Linked DNA regions of Homo sapiens: region 2 is linked to region 1. Evidence: fine-mapped expression QTL. Tissue or cell type: whole blood. Region 1 holds a variant in brackets; the other region holds the start of a gene. All regions are shown on one strand. Distances are between the middles of the regions.

Region 1 (5,151 bases):
CAGGCGTGAGCCACTGTGCCCGGCATTAGTGTTAAAAGAGGTATGCATGTATGTTATAATTTATATGTAAAGACAAAGAAATCCCCATCCTCCTTCAAATGGTTAAGTAACTTTCCCAATGTAACACACAGCCAATAGAAAGTGACACCAGGGTGTGAACTCAAGCATATTTGCCGCAGTCCATTTTCACCATTGAACTATACTGAGTAGATGTTTGCATTAAAAGAAAATAGCACATACTTACTTCGCTCTATGGTTGTTTTTCTCTCCTTCAAGAACAGAAAAGGTTGTGAGAGCGCACCCACCATTATCTAATGATGCTGACTTTTCAATGAGATTGGTCACAAAATCATCAAAGTGACTGCCAACTTCCTTCATAAAAAATGGCTTCAATTCCTAGAATTTTAAAACAAAGAAAAAGATGGGGAACTAATACATGCTTGTGAGTCATTAGCATTTCTCTAAAGGGCTCCCTTAAACAGAGCTGGATCAAAAGAAAGACATAGTGAGTTCGCAGGAGTAAAAGCAAAAAATCAATTCCTGTATCTGACTTGAAGTTTCAGAAACAGCTACCTAAAAGGCAACATAGTGATTTATACCCTTTTAAAATGTATACCCCTTGTAAGCATAAAACAAAATACCTCAGCCTCCCAAGTAGCTAGGATCACAGGTGTGCGCCACCACTGCCGGCAAATATTTTATTTTTTGTAGAGATAGGGTCTCCCTATGTTGCCCAAGCTGAACTCTAGGGCTCAAGCAATCTTCCCGCCTCAGCTTCCCAAAATGTTAGAATTACAGGCAGGCGGCACTGTGCCTTATCCCCACGTTATAATTACCATGATTCTAAGTTCTCTTTTTTCTTTCTTTTTTTTTTTTTTTTTTTTTTGAGATGGAGTTTTCCTCTTGTTGCCTAGGCTGGAGTGCAATGGCACGATCTCGGCTCACCGCAACCTCCGCCTCCTGGGTTCAAGTGATTCTCCTGCCTCAGATTCCCGAGTAGCTGGGATTACAGGCATGCGCCACCACACCTGGCTAATTTTGTATTTTTCGTAGAGACAGGGTTTCTCCATGTTGGTCAGGCTGGTCTCCAACTCCCAACCTCAGGTGATCCGCCCACCTCAGCCTCCCAAAGTGCTGGGATTACAGGCACAAGCCACCGCACCTGGCCCAGTATTGTAAATTTCTTTCACAATCTCCCTCATCTATGACCCCAACCTCTGACACCTCAGACGGTACAGAATGTCACTTATAAGGTAACTATTTTAATATGATCAATTCATGTATTTTCTTTTCTTGAAGTAACATTCATATGTGAGTAGTTTAGGTATCCATATGCGAGACAAAATAACAAACCACAAAAAAAGCCATATTTACTCATTTCTGCTTGCCAACACAATTTCACAAAGTTCTTGACTCTATGATGATACACAGCTTTCCAAATACTTTTAAGACAAAATAAAACACACACTCCCCCCACATATCTTGCCTAAGTCACTATATTCCTTGAAGATAATAACCTTGCCTTTTCCTATAAATGACAGTTAGTAATTACACTTCTATAATCTATAACCAAATATACTCTTACACCAAACCTTAACATATTCTACTCTAATATAACTTCTAACTTCTAAACAAACGTAACATAATTTTACATATGCGAAACCCCCACCACCTATACATAAACAGTAGACTAAAATACAGTGCCAGAAAAGGCTAACAAAACCTCTCTAAAAGACTACTCCCAGGCAGCAGGCTCTGTCTACAGTTCTCAATAAGACTTCTAAATACAATAACTTTAATTCTTAAAAAGCTTTTCTTTAGTTGACAATCACAGCGACTATGAAGGGGCTCAAGAATAGACTGCCCAGGGTCATCTAGAGCATTGCAAGGAACTGCAGCCTTGGTATAGCACAGGCCCCTTGAGCCCCTCTGGCTCCGCCATGGTTGCAGCCGACTGGGTGAGCTTCTGACCTCCCATTTGGTTGACAGTCCTGAATATTATTCAGCTAGCTGCTTTCACCACTTGACAAAAAATGAGTTCTTCCTTGAAACTTTTTTTTTTTTTTTTGAGACGGAGTTTCACTCTTATTGCCCAGGCTAGAGGGCAACGGCATGATACTAGCTCACCGCAACCTCCACCTCCCAGGTTCAAGCAATTCTCTTGCCTTAGCCTCCCAAGTAGCTAGGATTATAGGTATGCACCACCACACC[CA/A]GCCCATTTTGTACTTTTAGTAGAGACGGGGTTTCTCCATGGTGGTCAGGCTGGTCTCGAACCTCAGGTGATTCGCCCGCCTCGGCCTCCCAAAGTGCTGGGATTACAGACGTGAGCCACCGTGCCCCGCCTGAAACTTTTACCTTTTTAAATAGAGATGTGGTCTCACTATGTTGGCCAGACTGGTCTTGAACTCCTGGCCTCAAGTGATCCGCCCACCTCAGCCTCCCAAAGTGCTGGGATTACAGGTGTGAGCCACTGTGCCCAGCCAAGACTTTGTTTTTTTTTTTTTAGAAGAGGAATATCCTAGTTAAAAGATACTATGAAGAAAAAGATATGTGAGGCTGTCTGATTGGCCAGGTTGTACAGGTGTTTTCCCTTTCAATTTGATTCTATAAATGAAGCTCGGCAGGATAGAAACTATTACACATGGATAACGGTCTGGAACTGAAAACACACAGGATAGCACCTGACACAGTTGTCACTCTCCAGGTATTCATTGTTCCAACCTCTCCCCCTCAGTCTGAGCTAACCTATGAGGAACAATAAAACAATGTACAATAAAAATTGTAATTTAAGCAAATCCTATCATTTAGTCCTTTTATTGTTAAAAGGTAACTAAACCTACCACATTCCTTTACATGGCATTATAATTACATGCCTAATGTTCATTTCCTAATGCCCTTCTCCTCTTTCTCTGAGGAATTAAAGTTGATAGAAGGTGCTGCCACTGGGGCACAAGGAAGAAAGAACTCTGCTCTGTGGACGCTTACATTTCCTGAATCTCCTCCTTTCACAGATCCTAGCAGTGATGACAATAACGAGTAACTGCTTATTATTGTTACTCCCTTTGTAAGAGGGAATATTAAGAAATATAGTACAAGAAACAGTCCACTTCTGCCTTCTGACTTCTATCACATGAAACTTGTTAATTAGAACTCAGTATGTGATCACTAATAAATCTGAATAATGTCTGGTATCAGTAACCTGAAAATAATGTTGAGGTTATAGTCTTTCTAATTTGCTTATCTTTTCAATCTCGTATCTACTGATATTAATTTCATGCAGCCAGTGGACTCTGACAGCCCTAGCACCATGACAGATGGATGGAGAGAAGGAAGGAAGGGAGAAGCGGCAGAAGGGAGGAGGCAGTTAACTAGGAACTAAAAAAGGTGCTTTTTTAGGTAATCTAGTAAACTACATTTTTAGAGCTTAAGGAAACCTTTTGTATTAAATAAGCAGCTGAATTAGATAACCTCTAAGATTCCAAGAATAGGGATCAACCATAATACAAAGACCCTATGGTTGGAACACATAGTTAAAGGAACAGATGATAATGATCAGAGATAAGGCTGGAAAAGCAAGTAGGGACTAGATCATGGACCTTTAAGCCATTTTAAGAATTTTTTATCCTAAAGACATCTGGAAGCCAATGACATTTTAAGCACAAGATTTGTAAACATGTTCAGATTTGCATCTTAGAAAGATAACTCTTCTACCTAAAAAGGCTTCCAGGCAGAGATTACTTTGGACTGAGTATTACAATGAAAAAAGGTCAGGGTCATTTATGGGTAAATAACTCTTTCAAAGGTACAGAGACATAAAACAATCTTAAAGTATGCTGAAAGAAAAAAACAAAGTAAACCAATCAGTAAATAATAATATTTTCAGTGTCTCAAAAAAAAAGTAGGTCCCTTGATCACAATTTCTTCATAAATGGTTTTAAAGAACATTAACTCCACAAGGTCATATATTGCTAGTCTAAAAATTATTTCTTCCTCTGATTTGCTGCCTGTCTTTGCACAGAGAATCTTTTAATCTTGGTGGCATGGTACCAGAAACCTGACCTTTCTGAGCAAAACAAGTAACACAATGGAACAGGTAATACAGTGCTTAGGACTTACACTAAATTGACTCCTCAGAAAGGTCTCCTGATAATTCACTCTAAAGTTCTTTCTATTCTCTCTTACTGAATCTCATTCTTTTCCTTCATTGCACTTACTTGAAATTCTATATATTCAAGTGTATATGCTCTTTGGCATCTCACTGTCTGCCCCCCACCCAACTGATTTTAAACGATGTATCTTTTTGTTAACTGATAATTTTGTATTTTTAGTAGAGACGGGGTTTCACAGTGTTGCCCAGGCTGGTCTCGAACTCCTGGCCTCAAATGATCTGCCTGCCTTGGCCTCCCAAAGTGCTGGGTTTACAGGCGTGAGCCACTGTGCCTGGCCAAAGAACATTTTTAAGGTATCTAATTAAGTCACTGTTCCCCTTGCTCATGCATTTTGCATATAGTGTTCTCAGTTAGCATGAGAACAGAAAACACAACTTCTTTAAAATCCCAGCACTTAATGTAGTACCTGATAGACAAAGAAACCAAGCAGGCATTCATTAAATTGAACTGCTAAACATTCGAGGGCAACAGGACAGGTACCTGTCTACCTTTTGTAAGTGATGAAATCATAAAGCACAATAAACTGACTTTCACAAAATTATTCAAAATAGACTAGAGATTCTTACACTCGTGCATTTAAATGAGAAAAGGCAGAAAGGAAAATATCAGAAAAATGTATAGTCACACTTGCATAGCAAAAAGGTGAAATTTGACCAGTAGATTGGGACAGCAAAGAAAAATGGACAGCCATAGTAGAAACTGTTATTTGTCAACCCTATCAGTGCCTACCCCCTTTCTTAGTACTAGAATCCCTGATTTCTATCTGGGCACATGACTGCTTAGAGTAAATAAGTTTCCCAGTCTCTCTTTGCACCTAGGTAGCCAATGAGATACAGGTGGAAATGATTTGTCAAAGTCCACAGAAAATTTCCTTAACAGACACAGATACCTGTTCCTTACCCCCACTCCTTTCCTTCCCTCAATTTGGCCACTTGGAACTCAGACAAAATGACTAGAGCCATGTGGGCAATAAGGAGGACCA
Region 2 (5,151 bases), 250 kb after region 1:
CAGCCTAGGTGACAGAGACTGACTTGGTCTCAAAATAAATAAGTAAAAAAAATAAAATAAAATACAGCTGAGGAAACGGACACTTGGGAAGGACTCTTCAGTTTGCCAGCAAGGAAGAGGCACGACTAGGAGGGGTCTCCAATCCGCTGGCCAGAACAATTTGGATATCCAGGCCCTTGTCGAACAAAAGGCATGTTGAGGACAGAAAGTAACTTGCTAATTGCTACCTAGGGTCTTATCCAAGTCAGCAGTGATCCAAATTAAGACTTCCTGACCTGTATGTAGTCCTATCTTCTGTCCTGAGCCAGACTGTGTCCCTAAACACACTGTGTTATTGGCATTTTGGCCAATTAAGTGACCTAAATATCTGGGGTGGGCCTCATTTATGGAGATTGAAGGACCTGGGATCAGGAGAACTCTGGGCAAGAAATTGCTCCTGGGGAAAAGAGAGGAAGCTTTTGCAAATGTCTGAACAGGTTTCAGAACATGGGGCCAAAGATCACCTTGTGAGAGTGAAAATGCAAATCAACTGCGATATGCAAATCAAGCAACCCAAACTAATTAGAAAATACTGGTTGCCATGGCACAGTGGCTCACGCCTGTAATCACAGCACTCTTGGAGGCCAAGGCAGGCAAATCACAAGGTCAGGAGTTCGAGACCGGCCTGGCCAACATGGTGAAACCCGCCCCCCCCCCCCCCCCCCGCCTCTACTAAAAATACAGAAATTAGCCGGACGTGGTGGCAGGCACCTGTAATCCCAGCTACTCGGGAGGCTGAGGCAGGAAAATTGCTTGAACCCAGGAGGCGGAGGGTGCAGTGAGCTGAGATCGCACCACTGCACTCCAGTGTGGGTGACAGAGCAAGCCTCCGTCTCAAAAAAAAAAAAGAAAAGAAAGGGACACTTTTAATCACAACCCAGAATTTCTGATCAGTTCTCTCTGGATAGTTCCAGCCCCCTCTGAGAGGTAGCTGTTTCTGTTTAGAGTGAAACAAGGTGCTCTGGGCCTGACAAACAGCTCAGTTTGCCTGGGCTATTAAGCTAGAGGCTAAAAAGGGGCTTCCCTGACTCAAGCATTTGGTACTCCCTCAAAACTTCAGTCAGACTGTGGCAGTTCCTGCTTGTCGGGAGGCTGGGCAGGATGACGAAAGGTCCCTTGCATCTAACCATTTCCCCTGGACTGCCTCCCCTCCCCACAGATCCCTAGCCCCTTGAAGCCATGCGGGGTCCAACCTGTAAAGTTGTTGGAGATTCTGCAATCCCCTCTAGGGCAGCAGTCTTTGAAGCTGCAGTACCACGTGGTCAGGAGGTCCAGGTACCGCTGGCCCAACAGAGGAAGGCGCCAGCCTGGAAAAGGAGGAGCTGTGAGACCGAGAGGAGACCATCCGGTGCTCTACAGTGATGCGGCAACCTTGCCACACAACTTGTCAGGGACAGAGGGACACCCAGAACTCAGATTCTAACTCCCAGCCCCGACTCGGCCCACTGTCGGTCCTCAAGCCCTGCGTCCAAAAGCAGCAAGGGAGACGGCAGTCACCAGGCATGTCCACAGCGGACGTTCCCTAGAGCTGTCAAGAGCAACACCTTCGAATAACGCCAGGGTGGGCTGGGAGATGGCACAGGCGGTGCGAGAGAATCTGGAAAGCGCAGGGATCAGGGGAGGCGGGGGACGGGAAGCCGGGCGCCAGGGGGGTGCGCAGGGGACGCGGGTGGGGCAAGGGCGGTGATGGGGCTCCCTGCTCCGCGGAGGCTGCCCCCGCCCACAGCCGGTACCGGCGGCTGAGCAGAGCAGGACTGCGGGCCCAGATGTCGCCCCGGACAGGAGCGAGGCGACCACAGCCGCGCCCGGATCGCACTCTGCTCCGCAGCGAACGGCGGACCGTGGGGACGGGGTCTTACCCAGGGGCCCCGTGGCTGCCTCCTCGTCCTCGTCACAGTCGTCGGGCCACACCTGGCAGCTGAAGAGCGTCCAGTACCGCTTGGAGAGGGCACCCGCCGCCCTGAGCTGCTCCTGCAGGCGCTGGAAGCCCGGCCAGGCCCAGGCCGAGCCCGGCTCGTCGGTTCCCTCCCACGGCCTGGAGGCGCCGCGGGGCTCAGGCGCGCCCGGGAGCAGCAGCAGGAAAAAGAGCCAAAGCTGGCGCCACGGACCGCGAAGCATGGCCGGCCCCGAGCTGCGGGACCATCCGGCTGCCGGCCTAGCCAGGCTCCCTTAAGCCCGGGGCGGTCAGGCGGGGACCGCACTTCCTAGGCGGGCTTGAACCCGGGATTGGTGTTGCTGTGGCGACCGGCGGGCCGGGCTGAGTGCGCACTGGCAGCCTCCGTACACGTGACCCAGGCGGGAACCCGAAACCCTGTCTGGGGTCCTGAGAGGCAGTCCCGAGACTGACTTCAGGCCAGGTGCAACTAGCCGGCTTCCAGGAAGCAGTTTATTCTGGGTCGTGATTGTGGTTGCAAAGAAGGTGAACTCAGGCTTTGAAATGGCCACTGTCAATCACTCCGCTAGGACTTTCGGACGGCTCTGGTGGCCCATCAGAGGCCTACCGAATAAGGACACTCCTGCTTTGCCTCGCGTTTGCAGATCAACTTCCCGCCAACCTGTTAGAGGAAGCCGGAAAACCGTCTCAGTCAGGAGCGTTAGGCAGGCCAGGGGAGTCAGCTGAGTGGAGAAGAGGCCCTGGAAAGAAGGGCACAGCTAGGTGCCTGTCTGGCCAAGGTTGCCCTGGCTCCTCCGCAGAGGGAAATGAAACCGCAGCAAAACACCAGCAGGTTTCCACAGTGGGAGTCCACGAAAAGCAAGAGGAAGCTGATTGACGGGCTCCAGTCTGGAGGTGTTTGGAGTTTGGAAACCCCCCGAGTCATGGGTAAATCATGAGGCGTCATGTCAATGTAATTATATCTCATAAAAATCCGAAGTACTGTGTGCACTTTCTTGACTAGGTTTGCAACTTTCAAGTGCTGGGACTGAGCAGCCCATCCGACACCATTGGCAAAAGACTACAGGGCCTCTTTCCCTCAGCGCTCTCTTCTCCATAGCGAGGAGCATGGAACAAGGCTGTTAGATTTCAGAAGAGCTTAATGCATTGTTTAAAATCACCTGGCTTACTTCAGCCAAGCCAAAAAGCCGTCTTGTCTTAGGAGAAAACTGCTGTCTAGAGAGATCAGAGGACTTGGCTAATGTCATATGTTTAGTGGCTTTGAGGTTGGGCCCTCCAGACAGTAAGGTGAATACTAGCACCGTGTCTCACAAATGTCACAGGCAACTTGATTCATCTGTTCACCCCAGTCTCTTAGATCACACCGTGCCAGGTCTGCTCCATTCTCAGCAGCTCACCAAATTTGTGCCTTTCATTCGAACAGCTACAGAAACTAGATAAAGCACCTTTGCTAGGACACGAGGTTGAGTTGAAAAGTAAAATGTTTATAGTGTCTCAGCCATTCAGTGTGATGTCAAAAACTTTTCATAGAGTAGCAGCCATGGCACCAGCCCAGCACTGTGTACATCGAGCTTGCGGAGTCCACCGGAGACAGTTAACAGCACATACACCACAGTGCTTATTGGAAAACCAAAAAAAATTAGGCAGGGTGTGGTGGCTCACGCCTGTAATCCTAGCACTTTAGAAGGCCGAGGCGGGCGGATCACCTGAGATCAGGAGTTCGAGACCAGCCTGGCCAACATGGTGAAACCCAGTCTCTACTAAAAATCCAAAAATTAGCTGAGTGTGATGGTGCGCATCTGTAATCCCAGCTACTCAGGAGGCTGAGGCAGGAGAATGGCTTGAACCCAGGGGGCAGAGGTTGCAGTGAGCCAAGATGGTACCACTGCACTCCAGCCTGGGTGACAGAGCAGGGCTCCATCTCAAAAAAAAAAAAAAAAGAAAAAAGAGAAAAGAAAAAAAATTAACTCACTCAACAAATGTCGTTTGAGTCTGAATGGCAGTCTAATATAGTGATTACCATTTTCTATTTGTGCAACCATGGATGTTACTGAACCGTCCCATGCCTGTTTCCTCACCTATAAAAAGGGATAATAAAATAGTCCCCTCATAGGGCTGCTGTGAAGATTAAATGAGCTCATTCAATGAGCACATCATCAACACTCAATACGTGGCCAGTTTTATTTTTGTATCTACCCAGCCATGGAGGAGGCTCTGGGTGGTCTACACAGGAGGCAAGGATGGCTTTAGTTAATACTGGTGGTTTATAAGTGAATTTATGGTGAAAAAATTAATAGTAACAATAGTTTATTAAAACAATCCAAGTTTTAAGATGTTGTGGAAAGAATTATCTGTACTTGGAACTTTTATGTAGGGCTACCTGCTCATTTCTGAGATGTTCTGACTTGGATTTAGCATCCCATTGTAAATAAAGTAGGTTAGCTGGGAAGTTCTTCGACAACCAACTTGATTTCAAGACATTTTTATTATTTATTTATTTATTTATTTATTTATTTAGAGACGGAGTCTTGCTCTGTCGCCCAGGCTGGAGTGCAGTGGTGCAATCTCGGCTCACTGCAACCTCCGCCTCCCCGGTTCAAGCGATTCTTCCCCCTCAGCCTCCCAAGTAGCTGGGATTACAGGCGTTCACCACCACGCCCCCGCTTTTTTTTTTTTTTTGTATTTTTAGTAGAGACGGGGTTTCGCCATGTTGGCCAGGCTGGTCTCGAACTCCTGGCCTCAGGTGATCTGCCTGCCTGCCTTAGCCTCCCAAAGTGTTGGGATTACAGGCGTGAGCCACTGCGCCTGGCCGTTTTTTTCCAAAAAAAAAAAAAAAAGAGGTAAACACTTTTTCACCAAAGAGTCAGTCCCGTGTAGAAACAATAAATCCAAACACCAGTTTCTAGATACGTCTCTTGAGTATTTCAATAAATACTCCTTTCCGTCTCAGGCCTTGGAGGCTGTGCTCGTTTTAAAGTTCTGGAAGCAGTATCTCATGGATGACGGGGACATCTAGAGGCTGCTGGGAAAACTACAGACAACTATGATTCTTTAGCAAGCATTACGGTGCTACTCAAGGGCGGTTCCAGAACCCCACCACTGGCATCACCCAGGAGCTTGTTAGAAATGCAGAATCTCAGGCCCCAGACATACTGAATCAAAACCTGCACTTTAAGAAGGTCTTTCTGTGCAGGGAGCCATGGCTCATGCCTGTAATC

Which allele goes with the higher level. Alleles are on the strand shown, and positions count from the first base shown. SD is a standard deviation of normalised expression in the study named.
For the expression in whole blood of the gene that starts at base 2,216 in region 2, A is the high allele of the variant in region 1 and CA is the other (large effect, 1.3 SD a copy in Lepik 2017).

What was found. PIP is the estimated chance that this variant, and not a neighbour inherited with it, causes the effect.
Region 2: TOR3A starts here. The variant in region 1 is fine-mapped to the expression of TOR3A in whole blood (Lepik 2017, PIP 0.95).

The regions. Positions count from the first base shown.
Region 1 is chr1:179,330,751-179,335,901 of GRCh38, reverse strand. It overlaps SOAT1 (sterol O-acyltransferase 1), which reads right to left. Exons shown (of 16, transcript NM_003101.6): 4 at 245-396. Among named protein-coding and RNA genes, the nearest start is that of AXDND1, 33 kb to the left of the region's middle. The variant CA/A (reference allele first, on the strand shown) is at 2,212.
Region 2 is chr1:179,079,135-179,084,285 of GRCh38, reverse strand. TOR3A (torsin family 3 member A) reads right to left here and starts at 2,216. Exons shown (of 6, transcript NM_022371.4): 1 at 1,899-2,216; 2 at 1,233-1,346. The coding sequence starts at 2,157. RefSeq lists silencers at 592-651, 1,642-1,811, 1,952-2,241.